Linked DNA regions of Homo sapiens: region 2 is linked to region 1. The links come from fine-mapping of genetic effects on gene expression. A gene starts in region 1. The other region holds a variant in brackets. All regions are shown on one strand. Distances are between the middles of the regions. Region 1 holds the start of SBNO1 (strawberry notch homolog 1). Region 2 overlaps KMT5A (lysine methyltransferase 5A).

Region 1 (15,983 bases):
TGGGTGACAGAGTGAGACCCTGTCCCAAAAAAATGAAAAATAAACGAAAGCATTTGAAAACATGACCTATTTCAAAACAGTACGCCTATGAAAACTTCTATGATAAGTAAGACACAAAGACACAGCAGTAGAGAAAAACTAAGAGCTAGTTTTGGCAGGAAGAGAATACTGAGAAACAATAGCCAACCAGAAGAATGGAAGGATATAGTTCCCATTCAGAATACCAACACAGAAAGTTACCAAGGGGGACAAGGTTCCTCTTGCTGAGACCTAAAACCAATCTCTACAGCTCTGAGCAGACACCAGGGACATGTCCACAATAGCAGTAGCACACCACAGTGGCTGAGGAGATCATGGAGTCGGACAAAATACCTAGGTTCAAATACTGGCTGCATTGCCCACTAGTAGTATGATATGGTCAAGTGAGAACTTCTCTGACTCAGTTTCCTCATCTTAAAATAATACAAATAGAACTTCCTTCATAGGATTACTGTGTGAAGTAAATGTGATACTACCTGGAGTAAATGTTAGCTACTAGCTAGCTACTATCATTTATATATATGTTAGTATTTCATCCAAAAAAGATGTTTACTCCCATATCACTGATTCAGCACTTTATTCCCCAGAATACAAACTTTGTTAGCAATCCATTAAATAATTAACTTTCATACTAGTCTTTGGGTTTGTTTGTTCTTTTGCGATGGAGTCTTGTTCTGTCACCCAAGCTGGAGTGCAATGGCACGATCTCAGCTCACTGCAACCTTGAATCCGCCCCCCTGGGTTCAAGCGATTCTCCTGCCTCAGACTCCAGAGTAGCTGGTATTACAGGCGCGTGCCCCCACACCCAGCTAATTTTTTTGTATTTTTAGTAGACACGGGGTTTTACCATGTTGGCAAGGCTGTTCTCAAACTCCTGACCTCAATTGATCCATCCGCCTCGGCCTCCCACAGTGTTGGGATTACAGGCGTGAGCCACCGTGCCCTGCACATATCAATTATATAAAATACTAGTCCCTTTTTATCTTAAAGTGTTACTGCTACACATCCAACTTGACCAATCAGTTACTAAATTTAGAATAAACTGGTGGACATTTTTAAATGTGCACGGATACTATCACTTAGCAAATATCTTCACCTTAGCTAATAACAAAAAGGATTTTTTTCTCCTTAGAGTGCTAAGCATGTCTGATTCGAGATTCAGCTTTATCTGTGCTTTTATGCAGCTGTGATATGACTGACATTTAGTTTAAGAATTTTAAGATAATGATCCAGTTAGAGATACAGTTCATCAACAAATATTAAGTGTCTACTGTGTGCAGTAGACACTTAAGAACATCAGGAGAAAGAAACAGCAGTTACAAAGAAGTTAGTTTACAAGAATTTCCTTTATCTAAAAGAATGTAATCTGGGCTGAGCATGGTGGCTCATGCCTGTAATTCCAGCACTCTGGGAGGCCGAGGCAGGCAGATCACTTGAGGTCAGGAGTTCGAGACCTGACCAGCCTGGTCAACATAGTGAAACACCATCTCTACTAAAAACACAAAAATTAGCCGGGCATGGTGGCGTGCCTGTAATCCCAGCTACTCCAGAGGCTGAGACAGGAGAACACCGGAACCCAGGGGGTGAAGGTTGCAGTGAGCCGAGACTGCACCACTGCACTCCAGCCTGGGCGACAGAGTGGGACTCCGTCTCAAAACAACAAACAGTCAGGCATGGTGGCTCACGCCTGTAATTCTAGCACTTTGGTAGGCTGAGGCAGGCGGATCACAAGGTCAAGAGATTGAGACCATCCTGGCCAACATGATGAAACCCCATCTCTACGAAAAATACAAAAATTAGCTGGGCATGGTGGCGGGTGCCTGGTGGCGGGTGCCTGTAGTCCCAGCTACTCGGGAGGCTGAGACAGGAGAATAGCTTGAACCCGGAAAGTGGAGGTTACAGTGAGCCGAGGTCGTGCCACTGCACTCCAACCTGGCGAAAGAGGAGACTCCATCTCAGAAACAAACAAAACAACAACAACAAAGAATGCAATCTGTACTTTTCAACACCTACCCTTCATAGGACCTTGCTTGGTAAAGTAACCCCCACTGCAAAACCTGTAGGAAGAAGATATTTACAAAGGAATGTGCAAATTATATACAAAGCCACAAAAGTCCTTTACAAAAGCAATACACAAATAATTGAGTTGGGGGGAATTAAACAACTTTCTTGATTATCACTAGTCAAATTCAGATGGTCAATTGTCTTGATTCTCACTACAGGCTGAGTTTCCCGTATCTGAAACTTGGAACCAGAAGTGACTCAGGGTTTTTTGGATTTTGGAATACCTGTACATACATAATGAGATATCTTAGAGACTGGACCCAAGTCTAAACACAAAATACACTTATGTTTCATATACACCAGATACACATAGCCTGAAGATAGTTTTATACAGTACCTTAAAATGTGCATGAAACAAAGTTTTGACTGCATTTTGGACTGTGATCACTCACGTGAGGTCAAGAGTGGAATTTCCCACTTGTGGCATCATGTCAGTGCTGAAAGTTTCAGATTTTGAACATTTCAGATTTTGAATCTTCAGATTAGGGATGCTCAACCCATATATGGGTGTGTTTTTTTCTTTTAACCTTCAAGATAACCCATGAGTATCAAATGCTACCCATTATCCCTTTGTCACAATTTATAAACCAAGGCTTAGAAAAATGAAATACGGGCCAGGCGCGGTGGCTCATGCCTATAATCCCAGCACTTTGGGAGGCCGAGGCAGGTGGATCATGAGGTCAGGAGATAGAGACCACAGTGAAACCCCGTCTCTACTAAAAATACGAAAAAAATTAGCCGGGCGCGGTGGCAGGCGCCTGTAGTCCCAGCTACTCAGGAGGCTGAGGCAGGAGAATGGCGTGAACCCAGGAGGCAGAGCTTGCAGTGAGCCAAGATCGCGCCACTGCACTCCAGCCAGGGCAACACAGCAAGACTCCGTCTCAAAAAAAAAAAAAAAAAAAAAAAAAGAAGAAGAAAAATGAAATACAACAAAGGGAGCTTGGAATAGAATTACAAATTCAGAAGGTCTGACACCACATCACTCCAAGATCCTGTACTCCCAACCCTGTTCCAGTACTTTTCAAACTACTGATGACAACACATTAGCAGGGTGTCAAATCAATTTGGTGTATCAGGTTTTGTTTTGTTTTGAGATGGACTCTTGCTCTGTCACCCAGGATGGAGGGCAGAGGCGAGATCTTGGCTCACTGGAAGCTCTGCCTCCCGGGTTCAAGTGATTCTCCTGCCTCAGCCTCCCCAGTAGCTGGGATTATAGGCGCCCACCACCATACTCAGCTAATTTTTTTGTATTTTTAGTACAGACAGGGTTTCACCGTGCTAGCCAGGATGGTCTCCATCTCCCGACCTCGTGATCAGCCCGCCTCAGCCTCCCAAAGTGCTGGGATTACAGGAGTGAGCCACCGCACCCAGCCTACTGTATCAGCATTTTAAAATAGCTCAGTATAGGCTGAGTGCGGTGGCTCACTCCTGTAATCCCAGCACTTTGGGAGGCCAAGATGAGATCACTTGAAGCCAGGAGTTCGAGACCAGCCTGGCCAACATATACACTGGCCAACATATACATATATGTCTCTACTAAATACACAAAAAAGGTAGCTGGGCGTGGTGGCACACACTTGTAATCCCAGTTACTTGAGATGCTGAGGTGGGAGAATCACTTGAACCCAGGAGGTGGAGGTTGCCAAGATCGCACTCGTGCACTCCAGACTGGGCAACAGAGGGAGACTCCGTCTCAAAAAAAAAAAAAAGATATATATATAGTTGTATGGGTATATGTATACTAGGTCACAATGTAAACCGCATTTCTTACTGTGGGATGCAATAAAAATATTTGAAAAGCATGACTCTGATCTATATATTGCCTCCCAATAAATAAGTTAATTTGATAGGTTTCATACCATATCTTATTCATAAAAGAGAATTCCTGATCTTTAAGAGCCCATCCTTTCCACTTAAGGAAATTTCAGTGGTATCCCTAAGGTTGTCTTAACACTTGGTGAGTTCAAGCCACAACAAATTGCATCTGTCAATCAGCATATAAAAACAAAGACAACTGCAAAAACTTTAGGATTACATCATTTTAGATAGTTATTAATTGGTATTTAATGCTAAAGTAATTACTCTTAAAAATTATCTTTGGCCAGGCATGGTAGCTCAAGCCTGTAATCCCAGCAGTTTGGGAGGCCAAGCCGGTTGGTCACCTGAGGTCAGGAGTTCGAGACCAGCCTGGCCAACGTGATGAAACCCTGTATCTACTAAAAACACACAAAAAAATTAGCCAGGTATGGTGGTGGGCGCCTGTTAATCCCAGCTACTTGGGAGGCTGAGGCAGGAGAATCGCTTGAATCTGGGAGGCGGAGCTTGCAGGTGAGCCAAGGTTGCACCATTGCACTCCAGCCTCGGTGACAAGAGTGAAACACCATCTCAAAAAAAAAAAAAAATGTATCTTTACACCAACTTTAGAAAGGCAAAGCATGGGAACCCACAGAGCCTCATGGAATGTGAGGTTACTCAGTAGGACTAGCCCTGAGTGTTCTCCATCTTCACAGGTGGCAAGTCACAAATCGAAGCTCAATTTAGATGCTAAGAAATGCCTAAACATATCTGTAGCTAAACTCTGAGGGAAACCACTTTTTTCTTTTGAGACAGAGTCTCGCTGTGTCGCCAAAGCTGGAGTGCAGTGGCGCAATCTCGGCTCACTGCAACCTCTGCCTCCCAGGTTCAAGCGATTCTCCTGCCTAAGCCTCCAGAGTAGCTGGGATTATAGGTGCGGATCACCACGCCCAGCTAATTTTTTGTATTTTTAGTAGACAGGGGTTTCATCGTGTTAGCCAGGATGGTATGGATCTCCTCACCTCGTGATCCACCAGCCTCGGCCCCCTCAAAGTGCTGGGATTACAGGCGTGCACCACCAAGCTTGGCCGAGACAAACCACTTTTTAAAGCATAAAATGAATCTGCATGCTGCCCCTTTTTCAACAGTACTTTCAGTAAGGCACTTAAAACCTACAGGTTGGGCACAGTGGCTCACACGTGTAATCCCAGCATTTTGGGACGCCAAGGCAGGCAGATCACGAGGTCAGGAGATCGAGACCATCCTGGCCAACATGGTGAAGCCCCATCCCTATTAAAAATGCAAAAATTGGCCGGGCACAGTGGCTCACGCCTATAATCCCAGCACTTTGGAAGGCCGAGGCAGGCGGATCACGAGATCAAGAGATTGAAACAATCCTGGTCAAAATGGTAAAACCTCGTCTCTGCTAAAAATACAAAAATTAGCTGGGCGTGGTGGCACATGCCTGTAATCCCAGCTACTTGGGAGGCTAAGGCAGGAGAATTGCTTGAACCTGGGAGGTGGAGGTTGCAGTGAGCAGAGATCACACCACTGCACTCCAGCCTGGGCAACAAAGTGAGACTCCGTCTCAAAAAAATAAAAAATAGAAAGAAGGCTGGGCATGGTGGCTCACGCCTGTAATCCCAGTACTTTGGGAGGCGGAGGTGGGTGGATCATCTCAGGTCGGGAGTTCAAGAACAGCCTGATCAACATGCAGAAACCCCGTCTCTACTAAAAATACAAAGTTAACCAGACGTGGTGGCTCATGCTTGTAATCCCAGCTACTCGGGAGGCTGAGGCAGGAAAATGACTTGAACCCGGGAGGGGGAGGTTGCAGTGGGCCGAGATCGCGCCATTGCACTCCAGCCTGGGCAACAAGAGCAAAACTCCATCTCAAAAAATATTTAAATAAATAAATAAAAGTACAAAAATTAGCTGGGCGTGGTGGCGTGTACCTGTAATCCCAGCTACTCAGGAGGCTGAGGCAGGAGAATCACTTGAACCAAGGAGCGGGAGGTTGCAGTGAGCTCAGATCACCCCACTGCACTCCAGCCTGGTGACAGAGCAAGACAGTCTAAAAAAAAAAAAAAAATACAAAATTGCCTGACATATAACCGCATTCAATGAATGAATGAATGAATAGTAGGCCACTAACTCAGTGTCTCCCCTTCAGCAACTAAAGTGAAGATTTATTTAAGATTCTGAGGCCAGGCGCGGTGGCTCACGCCTGTAATCCCAGCACTTTGGGAGGCCGAGGCAGGCGGATCACCAGGTCAGGAGTTTGAGACCAGCCTGGCCAATATGGTGAAACCCCGTGTCTACTAAAAATACGAAAATTAGCCGGGCATGGTGGCACGCGCCTGTAGTCCCAGCTATTTGGGAGGCTGAGGCAGAATAACCGTTTTAACCCAGGAGGCAGAGGAATGCAGTGAGCCAAGGTTATGACACCGCACTCCAGCCTGGGCGAGAGAGCGAGACTCCACCTCAAAAAAAAAAGATTCTGTTGGGCGTGGTGGCTCACGCCTGCAATCCCAGCACTTTGGGAGGCCGAGGCAAGCGGATCACGAGGTCAGGAGATCGAGACTATCCTGGCTAACATGGTGAAACCCCGTCTCTACTAAAAGTACAAAAAATTAGCCGGGCGTGGCAGCGGGCACCTGTAATCCCAGCTACTTGGGAGGCTGAGGCAGGAGAATGGCGTGAACCCGGGAGGCGGAGCTTGCAGTGAGCAGAGATCGTGCCACTGCACTCCAGCCTGGGCCACTGAGCGAGACTCCGTCTCAAAAAAAAAAAAAAAAAAAAAAAAAAAAAAAAAGGATTCTGACGGGGGGGCCAAGGGCGGTGGCTCACGGCTGTAATTCCAGCACTCCGGGAGACAGAGGTGAGTGGATCACTTGAGGTCACTAGTGTGAGACCAGCCTGGCCGACATGGTGAAACCCCTTTCTGCCAACTACATAAAAAAAAATTAGCCAGGTGTGGTGGCACATGCCTGCAATCCCAGCTACTAGGGAGACTGAGGCAGGAGAATTGTTTGAACCCTGAAGGCAGAGGTTGCAGTGAGCCGAGTTCATACCACTACACTCCAGCCTGGGCAACACAGCAAGACTCCGCCTCAAAAAAAAAAAAAAAAAAAAAAAAGATTCTGAAGGGGCCAGGCACAATGGCTCATGCCTGTAATCCCACCACTTCGGGAAGCGGAGGCCAGAAGATTGCTTGAGGCCAGTAGCTGCCTCCCAACATGGTGAGACCCCCGCCTCTCAACAAAAAAATTAAAAAAAAAAAAATTAGCTGCTGTAGTGGTGCACATCTGTAGTCCCAGCTACTCCGGAGGCTGAAGTGGGACGATCGCTTGAGCCCAGGAGTTCAAGCTGCAGTGAGCTATGACCACGTCACTGCACTTCAGCTTGAGCAACAGAGTGGGACCCTGTCTCAAAAATTTAAAAATAGCATAAATATTCCAAACGCAATTATATGGAATAAGTTGGAATGGAAGATAAAAAGCAGAAGCCAGAGAAAAAAAGTAAAGTCGTCTCCCATCGGAAAAATTTTGGAAACAACTTCTTTAAAAGATGAGAGAAAATGTTCCCTTGCTTGCAAAATTAATGTCCCACTCAAGTCACCAGTAGGAAATTCTGCTATCTTCTGTGCAACGATGATAGCTTTCCCTACGCTTATGAAAATCAATTCTGATTGCTAGAAAATATGGTGGAAAATAGAATCCCTCTGTACTGTCAGCTCGCAGAATTATCTGAAAGTGTTAAGTCAATTCCTGCTAGGGCACTCCGGATGACAGTTCTCTGCACCCTTCTGGATGACTCTTTAGAAACCATATTCCATCCCTAATTCTGGCTGTCTAGAATATATGAAACATTTAACTCAACATAAAATGATAATAGCCAACTTTCAAAGGTCAAAGGGGACCAGTTTATAACCTTCCCTCAACACGTGTTCAGTACAAACTTCCGGGTGCACTTACAATTGGCTGCGCAATTCAATGGATAAAAACGTTGCTTTATTTGTCTCTCATTTTCTGGCCCGTTCTTTTCCCACGTTTCTCAACCAGCGACTCCCCAAAACAAAAGCCTCCCACAGTAAACCGAGCACGCACATAAAAAGAGCTTCTCTGTGCGAGGATCAAGTTAGTGGTCCGCAAACATTAACCAAACAGAAGCACAAAGCAGGGGTGGGAAGGGGAGGAGCTGGATGCCAGGGTCAGGAAAGAAACAATCAGAAGGGTTTAGGAACATCCAAATCTCCTCAGCGGTTAAACCGACCCCAAACCACTTCTGGGAAACCACCGGTATCCACTGCTTTGGGGAACTCTGGATGCTCGTTATGCCAAACGCTCTCAAAGTAAGCAAATCCCCAACTGCCGTTCCCCTCCATGGGTAATTCTTAGGGTCTGGGAGGTGAGCTCGCCCGCCGAGGCAGAACTAAGCGAGTCGCCTGGAGAGGCGTGAAGGGAGCCTGCACGTGTCCCCCGCGGCTTCCCCACCGCCCCAAGAGCGGGGCATGTACGAGACCGCGCTGTGGGGTTCAGATTTAGGAAGGACGACCGCGTCGCCTGCCTCCCTCCCTCGCCCAGAGCCGGGAGCAATGCTGGGGCACGAAAGAGGACTTGGGAAGGATCCGGTCCTTACTTTCCCCGCGGGTCCCGGACCCGCAGCCCCCGGGTTGTGAGGCGGAAGCCAAAGGGGCGAACCCAGCGGAGCCGGCGTGCACAGACCCTGCCCCGCGGTCCAAGAGGGGTGCCTCCGGCCCGGGACAGCGGGGCTCCCGGAGCCCGAAAGCCCCACGAGCGGCGACAGCGGGGCCCGGCGCTGACGAACAGAGGAAGCGAGTACAACGGAGCCGCCGTCGGGAACATGCCCCCGAGGGCCCCGGAGCGCGCGGCCGCGAGGAGCGGCAAGCGGCGAGGGAGGCCCCAAGCCGGGGCGAGGTGGCTGTCCCCCCAGCCTGGCCCCGCACGGCCCCCCGAGGGTGGGAGTGGGAGGCTGTCCGGGAGGGGGAGTGTGGAAGGAGAAAAGGGCCAAGGGAAGGACTTACTTTCCCCGCGGGACCCGGCGCCAGCACAGCTCCTCCCGGGAGGTGTGAGTTTGAAGGACCAGAGGCGACTGGAGCGGAGGCGGCGGTGGCGGCGGCAGCAGCGGCGTCCTGCTCTGCCTACCTCCCCGCCGCCATCTTGACGCCCCTCCCCCAGCCCCCCCGCCCCGCCGGGAGGGGCGGGGGAGGGGCAACGGATGAGGCGCCGCGCGCACGCAGCGCCCTCACGTGACTTCCTCCCTCCTCCCCCACCCGCCTCTCTGCGCCCCTCTCCGCCCCGCCTCCCTCCTAGGTGAAGGAAGATGATTTCCCCCCCATCTTGACCACCCCCCAGTCTTCGCCGCCAAAAACGGACTCCGCCGGCTATCCTCGGCCCGGTACCAGTTGTTGGATCCAAGAGAATTCCGGAACCCAAACGGTCCATTACCGCGGCTCTGGGGTGGGCGAGGGGTGAGGGGGCCGGGTTTCCGCGAAGGGGGAGGGGGAAGGCGAAGGCCACCTAGGAGAGTCACGTGACTACTGTTTCCGCCGGCGCTCACGGAGAGCTCGCGGTAATTCCGTTTCCCCGCCCTTTTTTCCCCGCGGCCTGTCGGGAAGAAGGTCCGCGTGCCAGGGCTATCGGGAGGTCGGCCGGAGGGCCGCGCGCATGCGCCCCGCGCCTGCTTTCAAACTCCGGTTAGGAAGGGCCTGGAGCTATTTTCAGAACCTGTTAGGGTGGGGAGCTACGGCCCAGGAAGTTACCTAGCAGCGTTTCTGTCACTTGGAAGATCTCTTCATTACCTAGTTAGTCCTAGAAACAAAATGTTTACATATTCATTGCTTGTTAGGCTCGCTCAAAGCACTTTATTGGCAGTGAAACCGCAAGTAACCCGGAGCCCTCGGCGCGACCACGGCTAGAATCAGAGCCTAAGGCGTGTGAGCTCAGCCATCCCACGTCTGTCTTCACGCTCATACGCAAGCCCGACACACCGGGGCTCCCACTTAATGAATACTGAAGAGTAGGGCTGTCCCTACCGCTTCTCACTTCCTTGTTTTCATCTTTTCGTTATTATTAAGCGACCTAACACAATAAACATATTACCTTGTTGGTAACCCTTTTGTAAAGTCATTCTGAAAGTGCTGTTTGACTCCGTTGCTTGGGTAATAAGCACGCCTGGGTGATTCTTGCCCCCTACTGGCTGCGCATCCTACAAGCCTAGTGCTGAAAGCAAACCAAGTAGCTGGAACAGTTGGAGGTTACAGTGTGAACTCTTCCAGAGACAAAGTATTCGGGGAAAGAAAGGAAAAAGTAGGCACAGAAAGAATAGGAAACTTCAGTGTTTGTACACATAGATATGTATTATATATCTATGTATACATTTATAAATATTTTTAAAGTGCTAACTAATCGCTTTACTAATTACATTATTTCATTTAATCCTCTCACACACATAGAAAAAAAACCTATAAAGACAAAAATAAAAAATATTTTAGGCCGGGCGCAGTGGCTCACGCCTGTAATCCCAGCACTTCGGGAGGCCGAGGTGGGCGGACCACCTGAGGTCAGGAGTTCGAGACCAGCCTGGCCAACATGGTGAAACCCCATCTCTGCTAAAAATACAAAATTTAGCTGGGGCTTGGTGGCGGGCACCTGTAATCCCAGCTACTCTGGAGGCTGAGGCAGGAGAATCGCTTGAACTCAAGAGACGGAGGTTGCAGTGAGCCGAGATCGTGCCATTGCACTGCAGCCTGGGCGACAGAGCGAGAATCCGACTCAAAAACAAAAAACAAAAAAAACCTTAGGCACAGGCCAGGTGTGGTGGCTCACGCCTGTAATCCCAACACTTTGGGAGGCTGAAACGGGGATCTCAGCCAGGAGTTTGAGACCAGACTTGGGTAACAAAGTGCAACCTCATCTCGACAAAAAAACATTTTTCTTTTTGAGACGGGGTCTCGCTCTGTCGGTCGCCCAGGCTGGAGTGCAGTAGCGCGATCTCGGCTCACTGCAACCTCTGCCTCCTGGGTTCACGCCATTGTCCTGCCTCAGCCTCCCGAGTAGCTAGGACTTTTTTTTTTTTTTTTTTGTATTTTTAGTGGAGACGGGGTTTCACCGTGGTCTCGATCTCCTGACCTCGTGATCCACCCATCTCGGCCTCCCAAAGTGCTGGGATTACAGGCGTGAGCCACCGCGCCCGGCCCAACAAAAAACTTTTAATTAGCCAAGTGTGATATATAGTCCCAGCTACTCAGGAGGCTAAGGTAGGAGAATCACTTGATTGCCCAGAAGTTTGAGGCTACAGTGAGCTATAATCGTGCCACTGCACCAGCCTGGGTAACAAAGCGAAACTATTTTTTTAATTTTTTTTTTTTTTGAGACATAGTTTCACTCTTGTTGCCCAAGCTAGTTTGTTGCAATGGCGGGATCTCAGCTCACTGCAACCTCCGCCTCCTGGGTTCAAGTGATTCTCCTGCCTCAGCCTCCTGAGTAGCTGGGATTACAGGTGCCCACCACCACGCCCGGCTAATTTTTTGTATTTTTAGTAGAAACGGCGTTTCACCATGTTAGCCAGGCTGGTCTCGAACTCCTGACCTCAGGTGATATGCCCGCCTCAGCCTCCCAAAGTGCTGGGATTACATGCGTGAGCCACTGCGTCGGGCCTTATTTATTTATTTATTTATTTATTTATTTATTTATTTATTGAGACGGGGTCTTGCTTTATCTCACCCAGGCTGGAGTGCAGCGGTGCGATCTCGGCTCACTGCAGCCTCTGCTTCCCAGGTTCAAGCAATTCTCCTGTCTCAGCCTCCCGAGTAGCCGGGACTACAGGTGTGTGCCACCACACCCAGCTGATTTTTGTATTTTTAGTAGAGAGGAGGTTTCACCATATTGGCCAGGCTGGTCTCAAACTCCTGACCTCAGGTGATCCGCCCGCCTCAGCCTCCCAAAGTCCTGGTATTACAGGCATGAGTCACTGCGCTTGGCAAAACTCTGTCTGGAAAAAAAAAAAAATTCTTAGGCTTGCAACTGACAGTGATGTTTCCACCACATTCTATTGGTTAACAAGGCAGCCAAATTCAGCTCAGGAAAGGCAACACAAGGGTATGACTAGTGGGAAGTGTTGTTCATTGGACGCTACCAAAGTAAATCATAAGGAATTTTGAGGGTGAGGGACCTTTGGGACATCCTATTGGAGATACTTAGGAAGCAATTGAATCCTACAGCTTGGGGATCCAGATGGGGATTAATGTGAGACGGGATAAAACTATACTAGGAGAGGCTGGACACGGTGGTTCACACATGTGATCCAGGCACTTTGGGAGGCAAAGGTGGGTGGATAACCTGAGGTCAGGAGTTCAAGACCAGCCTTGCCAACATGGTGAAACCCCATCTCTACTGAAAATACAAAAATTAGCCGGATGTGGTGGTAGGCACCTGTAATCTGAGCTACTTGGGAAGCTAAGGCAGGAGAATCGCTTGAACCCAGGAGGTGGAGGTTGCAGTGAGCCGAGATCATGCCACTGCACTCCAGCCTGGGCGACAGAGTGAGACTTCATCTCAAAAAAAAAAAAAAAAATACAACTAGGAGAGAATGCAGAGAGGAGAGCCAGGGGCAGAGCTGAGGTTCTGTGTCTAAGAAGTGAGCACCAGGCCAGGTGTGGTGGCTCACGTCTGTAATCCCAGCACTTTCGGAGGCCAAGGTGGGTGGATCATGAGGTCAGGAGTTTGAGACCAGCCTGGCCAACAAGGTGAAACCCTGTCTCTACTAAAAATACAAAAAATTAGCCGGGTGTGGTGGTGCACACCTGTAATCCCAGCTACTCAGGAGGTTGAGGCAGGAGAATCACTTGAACACAGGTGGCGGAAATTACAGTGAGTGGAGATGGTGCCATTGCACTCCAGCCTGGGCAACAGAGCAAGACTCTGTCTCAGCAACAACAACAAAAAAGAAATGAGCACCAGGCCGGGCACAGTGGCTCACGCCTGTATCCCAGCACTTTGGGAGGCCAAGATGGCAGGATCACGAGGTCAAGAGATCGAGACCATCCTGTCCAACATGGTGAAATCCCGTCTCTACTAAAAATACAAAAATTAGCTGGGTGTGGTGGTGTGTGCCTGTAATCCCAGCTACTCAGGAGGCTGAGGTAGGAGAATCACTTCAACTCAGGAGGTGGAGGTTGCAGTGAGCCAAGATCGAACCACTGCACTCCAGCCTGGTGACAGAGCGAGACTCCTCAAAAAAAAAAAAAGAAAGAAAGAAAGTGAGCACCCAGTGAGCATGAGAAAGGTCAATCAGAGAGGTCAAAGCAGAATCAAGGAGAGATTATATCATGGATGCAAGGGAGTAGTCATCCCAGCAACACTTCTTCACCCTGGCAGCTGCACTTCTATGCAATAGCATCAACTATACCCAGTTTGCAGTTTTCCACACACTCGCTGAATTAGCCTCATCACACCAAATCCTTCCCTGAGACACCAGGAGCAATCAGAGCCCCCATAAAGGTCACCCTCTAATTCAGAGACACTAGCACCAGCGATGTCTAATGCAGCAGAGAGCACCAGTGTGTGGCTGAAGCATCTATTGGATTATTCAAGATGGCAAACACTGTGGTAGACAGTTGTTTTTGACTGCCCAGAATCTATGGTTCTTTCTTCAGAGAGCCGCATCTTAGTTTTATCTCCCTCTCTCAAAGTCCATGTGGTTTGGAGAGCACTAACCATGTCTCATGCACATCACTCCAGATTGAGTGTGCAAGCCAGGTCTAGCTGATTAGAATACTGGATCCACAGCCATAGTGATCCGATTTGGTGCCGGGCCAGTGAGTCGCAGTTCTAATACTTTGCATTGAAAATATCAGGAAAAAGATACTCTCTTGCCTCTGATGTTGCTAAGACAGTGTTGGGAAGTTGGGGCAGAGGCCCTGTGGGGCAGGAGGCCACGCTGATAATGAGATCAACCCAGAAAACAGCAGGGCAAAGGAGTAGGTGGGGTGGGGAGGGACTGGATTCTGATGACATCTGCTGAGTCCTGGGACCCTGTCAAACCTGAAGCGATTTCTAACCCTGAGCTTTTTTGGTTTTTCAGTTTTCTTTTTTTTTTTTTTTTTTCAGACGGAGTCTCACTCCATTGCTCAGACTGAAGTGCAGTGGCATGAACTCAGCTCACTGCAACATCTGCCTCCTGGATTTAAGCAATTCTCTGTCTCAGCCTCCCAAGTAGCTGGGACTACAGGCACCTGCCATCATGCCTGGCTAATTTTTGTATTTTTAGTAGAGACGGGGTTTCACCTTGTTGGTCAGGCAGGAGGTCTCAAACTCCTGACCTCAGGTGATCCACCCACCTCGACCTCCCAAAGTGCTAGGATTACAGGTGTGAGCCACCGCGCCTGGCCCTGGTTTTCTTTTTATAGAGACAAGGTCTCACCATGTTGCCCAGGCTGGTCTCTAACTCCTGGGCTCAAGTGATCCTACTACTCTGGCCTCTGAAAGTGCTGGGATTACAGGTGGGAACCACTGTGCTCAGCCTTAACTTTTTTGATATAAGAGTCAATACAGGGGGGAAGGGGGAGGGGAGGGATAGCATTAGGAGATATACCTAATGTAAATGACGAGTTAATGGGTGCAGCACACCAACATGGAGCATGTATACCTATGTAACAAACCTGCATGTTGTGCACATGTACCCTAGAACTTAAAGTATAGTAAAAAAAAAAAAAAAAGAGTCAATACAAAAATAAAAAGAAAAAACAAGAGTCAATACAGGCTGGGCTGGGCGCAGTGGCTCACACCTGTAATCCCAGCACTTTGGGAGGCCGAGGTGGGTGGATCACCTGAGGTCAGGAATTCAACACCAGCCTGGCCAACATGGTGAAACCCTGTCTCTACTAAAAATACAAAAAATTGGCCGGGCGCAGTGGCTCACGCCTTTAATCCCAGCACTTTGTGAGACTGAGGCGGGTGGATCACGAGGTCAGAAGTTCAAGACCAGCCTGGCCAAGATGGTGAAACCCCGTCTCTACTAAAAATACAAAAATTAGCCAGGCACGATGGCAAGCACCTGTAATCCCAGCTACTCAGGAGGCTGAGGCAGGAGAATCCCTTGAACCCGGCGGGGTGGAGGTTGCAGTGAACCTTGATCACGCCACTGCACTCCAGCCTGGGTGACAGAGTGAGACTCCATCTGAAAAAAAAAAAAAATTAGCTGGGCGTGGTGGTGGGCACCTGTAATCCCAGCTACTCGGGAGGGTGAGGCAGGGGAATCACTTGAACCCAGGAAGTGGAAGCTGCCGTGAGCCGAGATCGTGCCACTGCACTCCAGCCTGGGCTACAGAGGGAGACTCGGTCTCAAAAAAAAAAGAGAGAGAGTCAATACAGGCGAGGCACGGTGGCTCACTCCTGTAATCCCACCACTTTGGGAGGCCAAGGCAGGTGGATCACCTGGGGCTAGGAGTTCGAGACCAACCTGGCCAACATGGTAAAAACCCGTCTCTACTAAAAACCCACACAAAAAAATTAGCTGGGCATGGTGGCAGGCGCCTGTAATCCCAGCTACTCGGGAGGCTGAGGCAGGAGAATCGCTTGAACCCTGGAGGCAGAAGTTGCAGTGAGCTGAGATTGTGCCACTGCACTCCAGCCTGGGTGACAGAGGGAGACTCAGTCTCAAAAAAAAAAAAAACAGACCAGGGGCTGAGTGTGGTGACTCACGCTGGTAATCCCAACACTTCGGGAGGCCAAGGCAGGAGGATTCCTTGAGGCCAGGAATTTAAGACCAGCCTGTGCAACATAGTGAGACCCCATCTCTACAAAGATAAAATCAAGAAAATTAGCTGGGCATGGTGGCACACATGTATGGTCCCAGGTACTCAAGAGGCTGAGGCACAGAATCCCCTGAGCCCAGGAAGTCGATGCTGCAGTGAACCATCTTTGTGCCACTGCATGAACTCCAGCCTGGGTGACAGTGAAATCCTGTCTTGAAGAAATAATAAATAGCTCCCTCTCTCCCCCTCCCCCTCCCCCTCCCTCTCCCTTCTTTCTTCAGTCTCCCTCTGTTGCCGAGGCTGGACT
Region 2 (15,983 bases), 38 kb after region 1:
GGCCACATTTTGTTTATTCATCTGTTGATGGACATTTGGGTTGTTTCCACTTTTTGGCTATTACAAATAAACTGTTACGTTCCTGCATAGATTTTTTTGGGGACATATGTTTTTAATTCTCTGGAATAGATGCCTAGGAGTGAAATTGCTGGGTCATATGGTAACTCTGTGTTTAACTTTTTGGGAAAATGTCAAACTGTTTCTAAAGTGGCTGCACCATTTTATATCTGTGAGCAGCGTACTATTTACTTAATTTTTTTTTCTTTTTTTTTTTTTTTTTGAGACAGAGTCTCACTCTTTCGCCCAGGTTGGAGTGCAATGGCATGATCTTAGCTCACTGCAACCTCCGCCTCCCAGGTTCAAGCAGTTCTCCTGCCTCAGCCTCCTGAGTAGCTGGGATTACAAGTGTCCGCCAGTACACTTGGCTAATTTTTGTATTTTTAGTAGAGATGGGGTTTACCATGTTGGCCAGGCTGGTCTTGAACTCCCGACCTCAGGTGATCCGCCAGCCTCGGCTTCCCAAAGTGCTGGGATTACAGGCAGGAGCCACTGTGTCCAGCCTATTTACTTAGTTATTTAAAAGTAAAACATTTTTTAAAAAGGTAAGCAGTTTTCCAACACTGTCACTCCACAAGTGTTTTAAGTGACAGATCATTGCAGTGTGTCTCCCGATACCCAGGCCAGTCTGCTGGGGCACCATGCTGAGAACTGCTGTGAACCTGGGGCTTCAACCCCACTAGAAGGGGACCTTCTTTTTCTTCGGAGTCTGAAATGAAGGGTGCCAGGCAGCTCTTGGGGAAGAGTTTCTGCTTTGTCACCTTACTCCTGTCCCCTAATGCTGTCCCAGCCTTCAGGAATGGAGCTTTTGATCTGAGTCTGCAACCTGATTCCTGAAAGCTATTGATCAAGCACCCTGCCAGCGTCTCCGTCTCTGGTGCCTCTCCCTCACAGGCTCTCTATCTCCCACGTCAAGATGCAAAAGCCTAAAACCTCTGCCCAGTGTCTTGGTCAAAAAATCGAGCTGGAGCTAGGCACTCCCCCTGTCATAGCCCATAGCGGACACGGGGCTTAACAGGCCAAGGGCACTCCTGCCTGACAAACCCAGGATCCTGTCTTCTCAAAGCTTGTCTTAGAATGCAGCTGGTCGTCTGGAAATTGAGAGACAGTACAGAATAAACCCGTCTTTCCCCCACCTCCGCCTGCAGAGAAAAGAAATGCTGGGAACGCAGTACGGAGCGCCATGAAGTCCGAGGAACAGAAGATCAAAGACGCCAGGAAAGGTCCCCTGGTACCTTTTCCAAACCAAAAATCTGAAGCAGCAGAACCTCCAAAAACTCCACCCTCATCTTGTGATTCCACCAATGCAGCCATCGCCAAGCAAGCCCTGAAAAAGCCCATCAAGGGCAAACAGGCCCCCCGAAAAAAGTAAGTGCCCCATTCAGTCCTCTTCCTAACGTGGAGCAGTTTGGTTCCTCTGATGCCAGGGAAGCCTGCTCAGGTGCCCATGGGGGTTCAGTGGCCACCTCTCAGCCTCTCTCATGTCAAAGACTCAGATGCCCCGAGTCATCAGCAGGGATGCCACTGTTTGTCAGTTTCTGGATCTGGCATGGGTCCAGAGTTCAAGAGCCTCTCCTTCCTCCCCTCCTTACCCACCCCAGCATAAGCAGCCTTTGTTTTTTAAATTTATTTTTTTTGTTTGTCTTTTTTGGTGATTGGTGTTTTGTGTTTTTTTTTTTTTTTTTTTGAGACAGAGTCTCTTGTTGCCCAGGCTGGAGTGCAATAGTGCGATCTCGGCTCACTGCAAACACCACCTCCTGGGTTCAAGCGATTCCCCTGCCTCAGCCTCCTGAGTAACTGGGATTACAGGTGCATGCCACCATGTCCCGCTTATTTTTGTATTTTTATTAGAGACAGGGTTTCACCATGTTGGTCAGGCTGGTCTCAAACTCCTGACCTCGTGATCTGCCTGCCTCAGCCTCCCAAAGTCCTGGGATTACAGGCGTGAACCACCATGCCCGACTGTTGTGTTTTTTGAGACAGGGTCTTATTCTGTCATCCAGGCTGGAGTGCAGTAGCTCACTGCAGCCTCAACCTCTCAGGACCAAGTGATCCTCCTACTTCAGCCTCCCGAGTAGTTGGGACCATAGGTGTGCACCACCATGCCTGGCTAATTTCTTTCCTTTTTTTAGAGACGGGGTTTTGCTGTGTTGCCTGAGTTGGTCTTGAACTCCTGGGCTCAAGTGATCCTCCCGCCTCAGCCTCCCAGAGTGTTGGCATTACAGGCATGAGGCACTGCGCCCAGCCAGCAGCCCGTCTTTGAAACTCCTCTGAGGCCCTCATGGGCAGGTGACTGAGTGACCTGCAGGCTCCAGTGGACAAAGGTGTTTAAGTGACATCATCTCCAAGGAGCTGTGTGCCTCCTCGGTGTGTGCCTTCTAAGGAGCTGTGTGCCTCCAGGTTTTCAGTCCTGATATTTATTTTCTCCTCTTCCCCTCTTACCCAGAGCTCAAGGAAAAACGCAACAGAATCGCAAACTTACGGATTTCTACCCTGTCCGAAGGAGCTCCAGGAAGAGCAAAGCCGAGCTGCAGGTAGTCACGTGCTTTAAATTCCAGTTTGTGGAGGGGCAGGGTGGCCCACCAAGCAGTGCTTGGCGTGTGCGTATGTGTGTGTCCTCAGCCTTGTTTTCGTCATCTTGGAGCAAGTCTCTTGGCCCCTCTGGACTTGGTTTTCTCCTGGATCTATCGGGGATCCTCACAAAGCTTGTCCTGCCTTTCTGCTGGGGTCACTGCAGGGCTTGGTTAAGACACTTGTGTGAAGGAACCTTGTGACTTGTAGCATGTGGCAGGGAAAGCCAGGTGTGACTCTGAAGGTGGATTTTCCAGGACTTGTTGGCAGAGCCATTGGGAGCCTGGGACTGTGGGAAAGGCTGCCTGTTCTTTCAGAGGCTTTTCTTGTCTGTTTTCTGGAAGTTTCCATGTTGTGGCCCAGGGTGTTAAACAGCAGTGGCTTGGGGCCACTTGCTGGTTGCGTAGCCTTGGGCCAGTCACTTACCCTGTCCATGCCTTGGCTCTCCAGTCTGTAAAATGGTACAATAATGTAGTACCTGCTAGAGCTGTGGTGAGCATTCAATAAATGTGGTCATGCAAGAGGAACCCTTAGAACCATGCTTGGCACTCAGTAAGTGCCAGCTAACTGTTACTATCGCCACCTCTGCTTCCTCAGTGTTGTCACTCCCGTCTGCTCTTTCCCACGCTGCTGCCATACTAGGAGCCTGCAGACCAGTGAGCAGCACCGGCTGGAAGGCCAGCTGGCCTATGCGGGCCTCCGCTGCCATGTTTGCAGAGGGTTGAGCTATGCGGCAGGCAGTCAATATTTGCTGCAGTGAGGTGTGGTTATTGCCTTTCTGTGAAGGAAACGCAGGGCATGGCAGGTCCCTCTGCTCTTCCCCCTCAGGGACACCTGGGGCTGCCCCTCTGCTCTCCCTCACCCCCACAGTGACCACCGGGTTGGGAGAGGTGCTCAGGATTGCATCCTACACAGAGAGGTGGGGACCCCGGCTTTGGCAGTTTCAGCATTTCAGCCCTCATGCGGACTCCTTCAGCGTTCTTGATGTTAAATGCGCAGATACACAGTGGTCTAGTATTCTTTCTCTTTTTCTTTTAATTGATGAAGCTTCATTTAAAAAAAATTTTTAAAAAGGTCCATTTTCTTCCCCACAGAGAGCAGCTTTGGTTTTATTGCCTGAAAAAGGCAATGTCTTTCAGCCAAGAATGAGCTGTTTAAAACATTTGTCAGCAGTGGGAGGCTGTGCTAGGTCACTTTTTTTTTTTTTTTTTTTTGAGATGGAGTTTTGCTCTTGTTGCCCAGGCTGGAGTGCAATGGCGTGATCTCGACTCACCGCAACCTCCATCTCTTGGGTTCAAGTGATTCTCCTGTCTCAGCCTCCTGAGTAGCTGGGACTACAGGCATTCGCCACCACGCCCAGCTAATTTTGTATTTTTTTTTTTTAGTGGAGATTGGATTTGTCCATGTTGGTCAGGCTGGTCTCGAACTCTCGACCTCGGGTGATCCGCCCACCTCAGCCTCCCAAAGTGCTGGGATTACAGACGTGAGCCACCGTGCTCGGCCTGCTAGGTCACTCTTAAAGACAGCACTGGGCCAGGTGCAGTGGCTCACACCTGTAATCCTAGCACTTTGGGAGGCCCAGGTGAGCGGATCATCTGAGGTCAGGAGTTCGAGACCAGCCTGGCCAACATGGTGAAACCTTGTCTCTACTAAAATACAAAAATTAGCCAGGCATGATGGCAGGTGCCTGTAATCCCAGCTACTTGGGAGGCTGAGATGGGAGAATCACTTGAACCCAGGAGACGGTAGTTGCAGTGAGCCGAGATCGCGCCACCGCACTCCATCTTGGGTGGCTGAGCAAGACTCCGTCTCAAAAAAAAAAAAAGACAGCACTGCAGATGGTGAGGTGGTGCCAGACCACAGAATCCCAGACACCTCCCAGCCAGGGTTGGAGCTGCGGTGTGCCCACACACAGGGCCTCTGCTGAGCGTCCACCAAGGGCTGCTGTGGACTTTAGGGTGGGGGGAGCCGAGTTGGCCTTGTTAATAAGAAGCAAGAGTTTGTGCTGGGCAGAGTGAAGGCTGCGATGGGACAGGATGCAGGTCTGCTAAATCTTGCAGCAGATGAGCAGAAGGGAAGAACACACTTGCTTCCCTAAAGCACAGTCTGCAAACACAAGAAAGCTCGCCCTGTTCCTGGACCGGGAGCCGTGCTTTGCCCCCCACTGTTTGTGTTGGCTCTGCTGAGTGCAGCCATGCAAGCTGTTGCTGGCCAGGGCAGGGAGGCCATAGCTGGCCGGGATGACGTGGCTAGAGCTGGTCAGGGTGGAATATTTTCTGACTGCACAGATAAAGCCCAAGAACGGGACAGCTGGGGCTCATCTGAAGGGTGGGGTCAGTCCTGACTTGACTGCCATGCTGGGCCCAGGCTGTGGATCCAGGAGGGTGGGGCATAATACAGCCTGTTGTTGGCCAGATGGTCTGGGGTGAAACTGCAATTCAGAGCCTCTTATATACCTCCACTGAGGCTGAAGACAGCAGCCAGGGCGGGCCTAGCGCCAGGGCGTGGGTCCTGGGCAACAGGGTGGGATCAGGGCTGCTGGATTTGGACACAAGGTGGGCCTTGGAGAGATGCCCTATCCACCAAGTGCTTCACTGCAGGGGCCCCTTGGCCGGCCAGCCTGGCTGTGGGTGGGGTGGCAGCCAGCAGCGGGGCAGGGACCATGCCTCTTGGCAATGGCTGGGCTTCCTCATGCCCAGCTCGGCCCCAGGGCCAGATGTGCAAGCAGCCTGCTGATTCCGCTTGGGAAGGTCCCCTCCTTCCTGGTCACAGGCGCTTCTCAACTGCCCTAGTTCCAACCTTGTATCCCTCCCACTCCATCTCCTTCTAGGCCCATTTGTGGGTTCCTGCCAGAAGTCCCTTTAGAAAACCCAGGGCTGGTTGTTTGCAGGCCCCAAATTCCAGGCCTTTGGGAGACTCAGCCTCCCTGGCTTTGTGCCGGGGCATCTGGCCTGGTCCCAGCTTCCCTCTGCGCATCTCCTACCTGCCGTGTTTGGTCCCAGCAGAAAAACCCCCATTCCACTACCCCGGTCTTTCCATGATCACTCCCGTTTACATGGGCCCCCGTACTTCTCAGCACTCTCTGCACACTTGCAATGAATGGGTCACACAGCAAGGTGGTTATGTGTGTGATGGTGGTGGTGTTGCTTTGAGGGCCTGCTGTGTGCACTGTTCTAGACCAGGAGATTCCACAGTAAACTAGACCAGCCCGTAGGGCTTGTTTTCCAATGGGGAGTAATTAACAACAAAAAAGACACCAGCTACTTGGGAGGCTGAGGTGGGAGGATTACTTGAGAACAGAAGTTCAGTACCAACCTGGGCAACATTGTGAGACCCCATCTTTTGTGGGTTTTTTGTTGTTTTGTTTTTTTCGAGACAGAGTCTCACACTGTCACCTAGGCTGGAGTGCAATGGCGCGATCTTGGCTCACTGCAGCCTCCACCTCCCGGGTTCAAGTGATTCTCCTGCCTCAGTCTCCTGAGTACCTGGGATTACAGGCGCCCACCACCATGCCCAGCTGATTTTGTATTTTTAGTAGAGACAGGGTTTCACTGCGTTGGCCAGGCTGGTCTCAAAATGCCTGACCTCATGATCCACTTGCCTCGGCCTCCCAAAGTGCTGGGATTACAGGCGTGAGCCACTGAGCCCGGCCGTGAGACCCCATCTTAAAAAATAATTAAAAAGGCCTCCCAAGTAGCTGGGACTACAGGCGCCTGCCACCACGCCCGGCTAATTTTTGGTGTTTTTAGTAGAGACGGGGTTTCACCGTGTTAGCCAGGATGGTCTCGATCTCCTGACCTTGTGATCCGCCCGCCTCGGCCTCCCAAAGTGCTGGGATTACAGGCGTGAGCCACCGTGCCCAGCCAAAAAGTTTTTAAAATGTTTTTATTTTGCAATTTTTTTTTTTTTGAGACAGAGTCTCACTCTGTAGCCCGCGCTGGAGTGCAGGTGTGCGATCTCGGCTCACTGCAACCTCCACCTCCCAGGTTCAAGCAATTCTCCTGCCTCAACCTCCCAAGTAGCTGGGATTATAGGCGCTTGCCACCACGCCCAGCTAATTTTTGTGTTTTTAGTAGAGACAGAGTTTCACCATGTTGGTCAGGCTGGCCTCAAACTCCTGACCTTGTGATCCGCCCACCTTGGCCTCCCAAAGTGCTAGGATTACAGATGTGAGCCACCGCGCCTGGCCAATAATTTTAATTTTATAGAAAAGTTGCAAAGATAATACAGAGAGTTCCCCAGACTCCTTACCCATCTTCTCTCACTTAAGTTACTCTGGTGAATTTGTCACAGCTAAGTAACAACCAACATTGGTATATTACTGTTGGTTGAAGTTTTTTTTTTGTTTTTTGTTTTTTGTTTTGAGACAAGGTCTCACTCTGTTGCCCAGGCTGGAGTACAGTGGCATGATTATGGCTTACTAACCTCCGCCTCCTGGCCTGAGACTCCCAAGTAGCTTGGATTACAAGTGTGCACCACTATGCCCGGCTGATTTTTGTATTTTTAGTAGAGACAGGGTTTCGTCATGTTGGCCAGGCTGGTCTCGAACTCCTGACCTCAGGTGATCCACCTGCCTTGGCCTCCCAAACTGCTGGGATTACAGGCATGAGCCACTGTACCTGACCAAGTTTTGTTGTTGTTTTTTTTAAATCTATTCCACCAATATATATCTTTCTTTTTTTTTTTTTTTTTTTTTTGAGATGGAGTCTTGCTCTGTTGCCAAGGCTGGAGTGCAGTGGCGCGATCTTGGCTCACTGCAAGCTCCGCCTCCCGGGCTCACACCATTCTCCTGCCTCAGCCTCCCGAGTAGCTGGGACTACAGGTGCCCACCACCATGCCCGGCTAATTTTTTGTATTTTTAGTAGAGATGGGGTTTCACCATGTTAGCCAGGATGGTCTCGATCTCCTGACTTCGTGATCCGCCCGCCTCGGCCTCCCAAAGTGCTGGGATAACAGG[T/C]GTATATCTTTCTTTTTTTTTTAACCTTCTTGACCCTTATCTTTCATATCTTTTAAGTGGAACATTTTAGTCCATTTATGTTTAAGGTTAATATTGATATGTGAGGTTTTGTTAGGTATATTACTATTAAATAAGTTTATGGGAAGGTTTTTTTTTGTTTTTTGTTTCTTTTTGAGATGGAGTCTTGCTCTGTCTCCCAGGCTGGAGTGCAGTGGTGCGATCTTGGCCTACTGCAAACTCCACCTCCTGGGTTCAAGCGATTCTCCTGCCTCAGCCTCCTGAGTAGCCGGGATTACAGGTGTGTGCCACCACGCCCAGCTAATTTTTGTGTTTTTAGTAGAGACGGGGTTTCGCCATGTTGGCCAGGCTGGTCTCAAACTCGTAACCTCAAGTGATCCACCCACCTCAGCCTCCCAAAGTGCTGGGATGACAGACGTGAGCCACCATGCCTGGTCATGTTTTCTGTTTTTTTTTAAGACAGGGTCTCACTCTGTTGCCCAGGCAGGAGTGCAGTGTCACAGTCATGACTCACTGCAGCCTCAACCTCCTGGGCTCCAGCAATCCTCCTCCTTCCTCAGCCTCTAGAGTAGCTGGGACCAAAGGTGTACGCCACCACACCTAGCTTATTTATTTTTTGTAGGGACAGGGTCTGGATCTGTTGCTTAGGCTGGTCTCTAACTCCTGTCCTTAAGCGATCCTTCCTCCTGGCTTTCCTGAAGTGTTGGGATTACAGGAGAGAGCCACTGCCCCTGGCCTCATTTACATTTTAAAAGACCCCTCTGGCTACCTTGTGGAGAACTGAGTGTTCCCTGGGGTCAGAGTGAAAGCCTGGTGACTAGCAAGGGGGCCGGAGCGGGGCCGGGGCCGTGGCTGGGCTGCAGGGCCGCAGTGGGAATGGAGATGGAGAGGAGGTGGCAGGATTTGGGACTGTCCTTGAGGTTACTCATTCACCATTGTTCCCAGCACAGACTGCAGCGCCTGGCACATTGCAGGTGTGGATTGAGTGCCTGGAAAAGCTGCAAGCTGGTTTGGGCCTCTGTGTAGGGGGAATGGGCTGAGCTCAGCAGTTGGTGTCAGGCTCCTGACACGTGCCATCTGGTTTGGTGAAAGTCTATGCCGTCAAGACATGCTGGTTTGGGGTGAGCCACACTGGTTTGGAGCTTCCGATCTGTCTTCATTTGGTTCCCTTTTGCTCTGTAGTATCTGTGCAGTGGCAGAGCAGTAGAACCCAGGGTTAGGGATGGAGGTAGGTGCAGGAGGGGTGGCCTTAGAGGAGAGGTGGATCCAGGGGTGCCCCCTCCCAGTTCTCTGTTCAGGTCTGTATTGACCCTCGGGATTGGAGGCCCTCTTCTCATCCATCGTGGTGGCCTCCATACAGGTGAATCTCAGCGATCCCAAACAGAAGTATGAGCCATCAGACCAGAGCCATGTGGACTGCGTGTGTCCCATCCAAAGGGCACAGCCTCTGATCTGCTGTACCCGATTTTCTTTTTTCTTTTTAAGGTGGAGTCTTGCTGTGTCGCCCAGGCTGGAGTGCAGTAGCACAATCTTGGCTCACTGCAACCTCCACCTCCCAGGTTCAAGCGATTCTCCTGCCTCAGCCTCCCGAGTAGCTGGGACTACAGGCTCCTACCACACCTGGCTAATTTTTGTATCTTTAATAGAGACAGGGTTTTACCTATTTGCCAGGCTGGTCTCGAACTCGTGACCTTACGATCCGCCCGCCTCGGCCTCCCGAAGTGTTGCGATTACAGGCGTGAGCCACCGCGCCTGGCCCACTGTACCTGATTTTCTGTGAAGTCAGAGGCCTGATTTTCAGGTGTGGGCAAGTTGGACATTTTTTAACGTGCTGCATGGGCAACAGAACATATCTACGAGCCCCATTCTGTTCTTGGGTCCCCACTGTTTCCCTCCTGATCCAGTTGAACCCCAGGTGACAGATCTTCCACAACAGATGGGTGATGAGAAAAGGAGGGATACTTGGGGGCTTTGCCATCACTGGGGACCCATCATCCCCAGTGATGCCAAATGAGGCCGATTGTGGCCCGGTGGGCATGGCCTGGGCAATCAGGGCTCAAGACCATCAAGCTACGCACGATGGGCCTAGGAGAAGATACTGATGCTGTTTTTCTTTCTCTCTGCCCAGTCTGAAGAAAGGAAAAGAATAGATGAATTGATTGAAAGTGGGAAGGAAGAAGGAATGAAGGTAAGGGGCTGCTGTGCTTGCTGCATCATAGCTAAAGCTGGAAGAGCTCACCTTCCCTGGTCCCGTGGCTGAGAGTGGCCACCATGTGGCTTTCACCCTCTAATGGCCATGGTGACCAGGCAGACTCTATTAGGTTGTCAAAGAGCCAAATACCAAAAGTTGTTAAGGAAATGTCTTATGAAGGAAACATAAATGGGCTTTGTATATAAATGTTATCCAGGGGAAGCTTTTCTTAGAAATTGTGGTTAAACAATTCAGTGGCTTTTTGTACATTCACAATGCAATGCAACCATTATCCCTGTCTAATTTCAGAATTTTTTCATCCTCCCAAATGGAAACCCTTACCCATTACTTACCACTGCCCACCATCCCCACCTCTCCCCTGCCCAGCCCCTGGCAGCCACTCAGCTGCTTTCTGTCTCAGTGGAGTTGCTCTTCTGGGCACTTCATATAAATCGGATTATACAATATGTAGCTGATGCCCAGGGAAACTTTTAAAAGGAGAAACTAATACATTTTTAAACTGTTTTCCTAGATAATGACAATGCCCAAGAAATGTGCTTTTCTCTTACTGTATTTCAACCACACTCAGTTTGGGCGAGAGGAGAAGTACTCTCTACAGTGGGGTTCAGATGGGCCTAGACTAGGGCTCCGGGTTCAGAAAGCTTCCACTTCCACCCACCACCTAGGGGGATTCCGGCTTAAGTCCTGGGCCCCTCCAGCAACCCCATTCAACTCCATGTAGAATAGAGTGAGGAGACACAGGAGAGAAATCGTGGAATGAGGTAGAGACCCAGAACACTGGGCCTGCTGTTTGCCTAGGAAGGCATAGCGCATAGCCCCTAGACAGAGAAACCAGGTGTGTGGATTTGAGCTGTGTCACTGTCTAGCTGTGTGGCCTCAGACACGTGGTTGTGCCTCTTTAAGCCTCAGTTTCCTCATCTACAAAATGGGGCAGTCTCCACCTAGCAGATCTCTCACGAGCTCTGATGTAACTGCTTTGCAGATGAGCACCAAGGAACCACGTTTGTGGAGTGAGGGAACGTTCTAGAGCTGGCCTGTAGTGACGGTTGCACAGCTGTATACACTTCATAAAACCCATCAGCCTGTACATGTAAAGTGAGTGAATTTTATGACATGGCTCAGTACAGCTGTTAAAGACTGGGGTAAGCCCCAGCTCCCCGGAGACCTGCTGTGCACAGTGGCATCCATTGCTATTATGAACCAACACCCTCTCTTATCACCTGACAGATTGACCTCATCGATGGCAAAGGCAGGGGTGTGATTGCCACCAAGCAGTTCTCCCGGGGTGACTTTGTGGTGGAATACCACGGGGACCTCATCGAGATCACCGACGCCAAGAAACGGGAGGCTCTGTACGCACAGGACCCTTCCACGGGCTGCTACATGTACTATTTTCAGTATCTGAGCAAAACCTACTGGTGAGTCCACTGTTGCTTAGAGTGGCTTTTCTGTCCTCTGGGCAGTGAGGAGAGGCCAAAGGGCCAGGAACTCCTGATTCTGTTTGGTGGCCAGTCTTTTGGTTTTGTTGTTGTTGACTTTTTTTTTTTTATTTTTTGAGATGGAGTCTTGCTCTGTTGCCCAGGCTGGAGTGCAGTGGTGTGATCTCGGCTCATTGCAACCTCCTCTCAGGCTCAAAGAATTCTCCTCCCTCAGCCTCCAGAGTAGCCCAGCTAATTTTTTTTTTCTGTATTTTTAGTAGAGGTGGAGTTTTGCCACATTGGCCAAGCTGGTCTTGAACTCCTGACCTCAGACGATCCACCCGCCTTGGCCTTCCAAAGTGCTAGGATTACAGGTGTGAGCCACTGCGCTCGGGCTGTTGTTGCCTTTTTTCAAAGCTGTGATGCAATTATCGCCTGCTTCCTTTTTTTTTTTTTTTTTTTTTTTTTTGAATCTCGATCTGTCGCCCAAGCTGGAGTGCAGTGGCACAATCTTGGCTCACTGCAACCTCCACCTCCCGGGTTCAAGGTATTCTGTCTCAGCCTCCCACGTAACTGGGATTACAGGTGTGCGTCACCACGCCCAGCTAATTCTTATATATTTTTTTAGTAGAGACAGGGTTTCATTATGTTGGCCAGGCTGGTCTGACCTCATATGGTCTGCCTGCCTTAGCCTCCCAAAGTTCTGGGATTACAGATGTGAGCCACTGCGCCTGGCCCCAGCTTCCCTTTTTTTTTTTCTTTTGAGACGGAGTCTCGTTCTGTCACCCAGGCTGGAGTGCAGTGGTGCAATCTTGGCTTACTGCAACCTCCACCTCCCAGGTTCAAGCGATTCTCCTGCCTCAGCCTCCTGAGTAGCTGGGACTACACACACATGCCACCATGCCTGGCTAATTTTTTGTATTTTTAGTAGAGATGGAGTTTCACTGTGTTAGCCAGGATGGTCTCAATCTCCTAACCTTGTGACCTGCCCACCTTGGCCTCCCAAAGTGCTGGGATTACAGGCATGAGCCACTGTGGCCCCAGCTTCCCATTTTTAATCTTTGGAATTGGAGCTGTCCTGGATGTTATCTCATCCAAGGGGAGAAGTGGGCTAGTCACATGAAAACCTGTTAAGCAGCTCACCTGGCTCTCCTTCAGGGCATTTGGCCAGAGCAGCTCTGGAAATCACTAATTGATCTTGCCTGGCTAGGACCAGTGGAGTTGAATTTTTTATTTTTTATTTTATTTTATTTTTTTGAGATGGAGTTTCACTCTTGTTGTCCAGGCAGGAGTGCAGTGGCACGATCTTGGCTCACTGCAACTTCCACTTCCGAAGTTTAAGCAATTCTCCTGCCTCAGCCTCCCAAGTAACTGGGATTACAGGCATGCGCCACCACGCCCAGCTAATTTTGTATTTTTAGCACAGACAGCGTTTCACCATGGTGGCCAGGCTGGTTTTGAAATCCTGACCTCAGGTAATCCACCCGCCTCAGCCTCCGAAAGTGCTGGGATTACAGGCGTGAGCCACCGCGCCTGGCGGGGTTGATTTTTTTAATCCATTTATTTTGTGAAACTCTACCATTTCCTCCTGTGCCTCCATAAAGAGCCCTTTGGGTCCTACCCCATCCCCCCACCCAGGGCCTGTGCAGGCTCTCAAAAATAGCTTTGTGGGCCAGGCGTGGTAGCTCATGCCTGTGATCCCAGCACTTTGGGTGGCCGAGGTGGATGGATCATGAAGGTCAGGAGCTCCAGACCAACATGGCAAAACCCCATCTCTACTAAAAATACAAAAAAATTAGCCTGGCATGGTGGCACACGCTTCTAATCCCAGTGACTCAGGAGGCTGAGGCAGAATTGCCTTACCCCGGGAGGCAGAGGTTGCAGTGAGCTGAGATCGTGCCACTGCACTCCAGCCTGGGCGACAGAGCGACGAGACTCCCTCTCAAAAAAAAAAAAAAAAAAAAAAAAGCTTTGCAAATTGAGCCAGACCTGGTGGCTCGTGCTTGTAATCTCAAAAACTCAGGAGGCCAAGGCCAGAGGATCACTTGAGCCCAGGGGTTGGAGACCAGCCTGAGCAATATAGGGAGATCTTGTCTCTACAGAAACAATTAAAAATTAGCCTGATGTGGTGGCATGTACCTGTGGTCAAAGCTACTCGGGAGGCTGAGGTAGGAGGATGACTTGAGCCCGGGAGGTGGAGGCTGCAGTGAGCCGTGATCGTGCCACTGCACTCCAGCCTGGGTTACGGAGCGAGACCCCCTCTAAAAAGGAAAAAGAAAATAGCTTTATGAATTGAATCTTTTCAAAACACATGGCTTTAAATCAGCATCCCACCAGAGCTGAGCACAAGTGTGACTCTCTTCAGGTTGAAAAGCCTCTTTATCCATTTAATCCTCTCTGGCCCTCCTTCCCCTCCAGCGTGGATGCAACTAGAGAGACAAATCGCCTAGGAAGACTGATCAATCACAGCAAATGTGGGAACTGCCAAACCAAACTGCACGACATCGACGGCGTACCTCACCTCATCCTCATCGCCTCCCGAGACATCGCGGCTGGGGAGGAGCTCCTGTATGACTATGGGGACCGCAGCAAGGCTTCCATTGAAGCCCACCCGTGGCTGAAGCATTAACCGGTGGGCCCCGTGCCCTCCCCGCCCCACTTTCCCTTCTTCAAAGGACAAAGTGCCCTCAAAGGGAATTGAATTTTTTTTTTACACACTTAATCTTAGCGGATTACTTCAGATGTTTTTAAAAAGTATATTAAGATGCCTTTTCACTGTAGTATTTAAATATCTGTTACAGGTTTCCAAGGTGGACTTGAACAGATGGCCTTATATTACCAAAACTTTTATATTCTAGTTGTTTTTGTACTTTTTTTGCATACAAGCCGAACGTTTGTGCTTCCCGTGCATGCAGTCAAAGACTCAGCACAGGTTTTAGAGGAAATAGTCAAACATGAACTAGGAAGCCAGGTGAGTCTCCTTTCTCCAGTGGAAGAGCCGGGACCTTCCCCCTGCACCCCCGACATCCAGGGACGGGGTGTGAGGAAGACGCTGCCTCCCAATGGCCTGGACGGGATGTTTCCAAGCTCTTGTTCCCCTAACGTCTCAACAGGCGCTCACTGAAGTGTATGAATATTTTTTAAAAAGGTTTTTGCAGTAAGCTAGTCTTCCCCTCTGCTTTCTCGAAAGCTTACTGAGCCCCGGGCCCCAAGCACGGGCCGGGCATAGATTTCCTCTTCCACAAGCTGCCGCTTTTCTGGGCACCTTGAAGCATCAGGGCGTGAAATCAAACTAGATGTGGGCAGGGAGAGGGTTGCTTACCTGCCCTGCTGGGGCAGGGTTTCCTGAAACTGGGTTAATTCTTTATAGAAATGTGAACACTGAATTTATTTTAAAAAATAATAATAAAAATTTAAAAAAATTAAAAATAAAAAAAACCACAGAAAACAACTTTACATGTATATAGGTCTTGAAGTGAGTGAAGTGGCTGCTTTTTTTTTTTTTTTTTTTTGCTTTTTTTTGCTTTTTGTAGAAGAGATTGAGAATGGTACTCTAATCAAAAATAAAGTTTTGTAGTGGGACCAGAAATTACTTACCTGACATCCACCCCCATTCCCCCTCATCCTGCTGGGGTTGAAAGTTCCAGACCTGCTGTCGAGGCCTTGTGTTTGTCAGACACCCAGTGTCCTCCTGCAAGGACGCAACTGTGAGCTGAGGTGTGAGCCTAGGAGCCCAGGACCCCTGACCCCGGCCGCTGCTGCCAGCCTCAGAAAGGCACCCAGGTGTGCAGGGGAGCACACAGGGCCCGGCAGCCCCCAGGAATCAAGGATAGGGCTAAGGTTTTCACCTTAACTGTGAAGGCAGGAGGAATAGGTGACTGCTTCCTCCCGCCCTTCACAGAACTGATTCTCACACACTGTCCCTTCAGTCCAGGGGGCCGGGGCTCAGGAGCCATGACCTGGTGTCTCCTGCCCACCCTGGTCCCAGGTAAATGTGAATGGAGACAGGTATGAGAGGCTGTCCTCGTCTTTGATTCCCCCCCAACCCCACCTCGGGCCTCACGACGGTGCTACCTAAGAAAGTCTTCCCTCCCACCCCCCGCTAGCCTGGTCAGTGGTCAGCAAATTGGAAGAGGATCCGATGGGAGTGTAAATGTGAGACACAATGTCTTGATTATACCTGTTTGTGGTTTAGCTTTGTATTTAAACAAGGAAATAAACTTGAAAATTATTTGTCATCATAAAAATGAAACAAATTAAAATATTTATTGCCAGGCAAGGCCACGTGTGTGTCTTTCTGTTTTTACAATTTGACTGTGTCACACCAGCATGTCTAAGCTTTGGTAAGCATCCTCCTGGGGAACCAGAAAAGCTTACTGACGTGATTTTGAGCGTGTTTCCCAGAACTCTGAGCTCTTTCGTTTCCTCATCTGTATACTGGGGACCATAGGGTATGTGAAGATTAAAAGTTAATGCTTTTTTTTTTTTTTTTGAGACAGTCTCTGTTACCTAGGCTGGAGTTCAGTGGGGCAGTCTCAGCTCACTGCAACCTCCAACCTCCACCTCCTTGGTTCAAGCAATTCTCGTACCTTGGCTACCTGAATAGCTGGGATTACAGGCATGCACCACCACACCTGGCCTTTTTTTTTTTTTTTTTTTTTTTTTTTTTTGAGATGGAATTTCACTCTGTTGCCCAGGTGGGAGTGCAGTGGCATGATCTGGGCTCACTGCAACCTCTACCTCCCAGGTT

The links.
Region 2: its variant is fine-mapped to the expression of SBNO1 in whole blood (TOPMed, PIP above 0.99).

The regions. Positions count from the first base shown.
Region 1 is chr12:123,355,757-123,371,739 of GRCh38, forward strand. SBNO1 (strawberry notch homolog 1) reads right to left here and starts at 9,091. Exons shown (of 32, transcript NM_001167856.3): 1 at 8,945-9,091. It overlaps MIR8072 (microRNA 8072), which reads right to left and starts at 9,087; the gene lies at 9,008-9,087. SBNO1-AS1 (SBNO1 antisense RNA 1) reads left to right here and starts at 9,192. Exons shown (of 2, transcript NR_157806.1): 1 at 9,192-9,359; 2 at 9,769-10,048. RefSeq lists enhancers at 7,757-8,475, 8,132-8,181, 9,642-9,851 and silencers at 8,662-8,771, 8,812-8,891, 9,002-9,241, 9,372-9,471, 14,877-15,050.
Region 2 is chr12:123,393,842-123,409,824 of GRCh38, forward strand. KMT5A (lysine methyltransferase 5A) reads left to right here. Exons shown (of 8, transcript NM_020382.7): 4 at 1,206-1,425; 5 at 2,504-2,591; 6 at 9,732-9,791; 7 at 11,043-11,233; 8 at 13,652-15,512. The coding sequence ends at 13,862. It also overlaps a transcript of RILPL2 not described here. Among named protein-coding and RNA genes, the nearest start is that of KMT5A, 18 kb to the left of the region's middle. RefSeq lists an enhancer at 8,031-8,794. The variant T/C (reference allele first, on the strand shown) is at 7,586.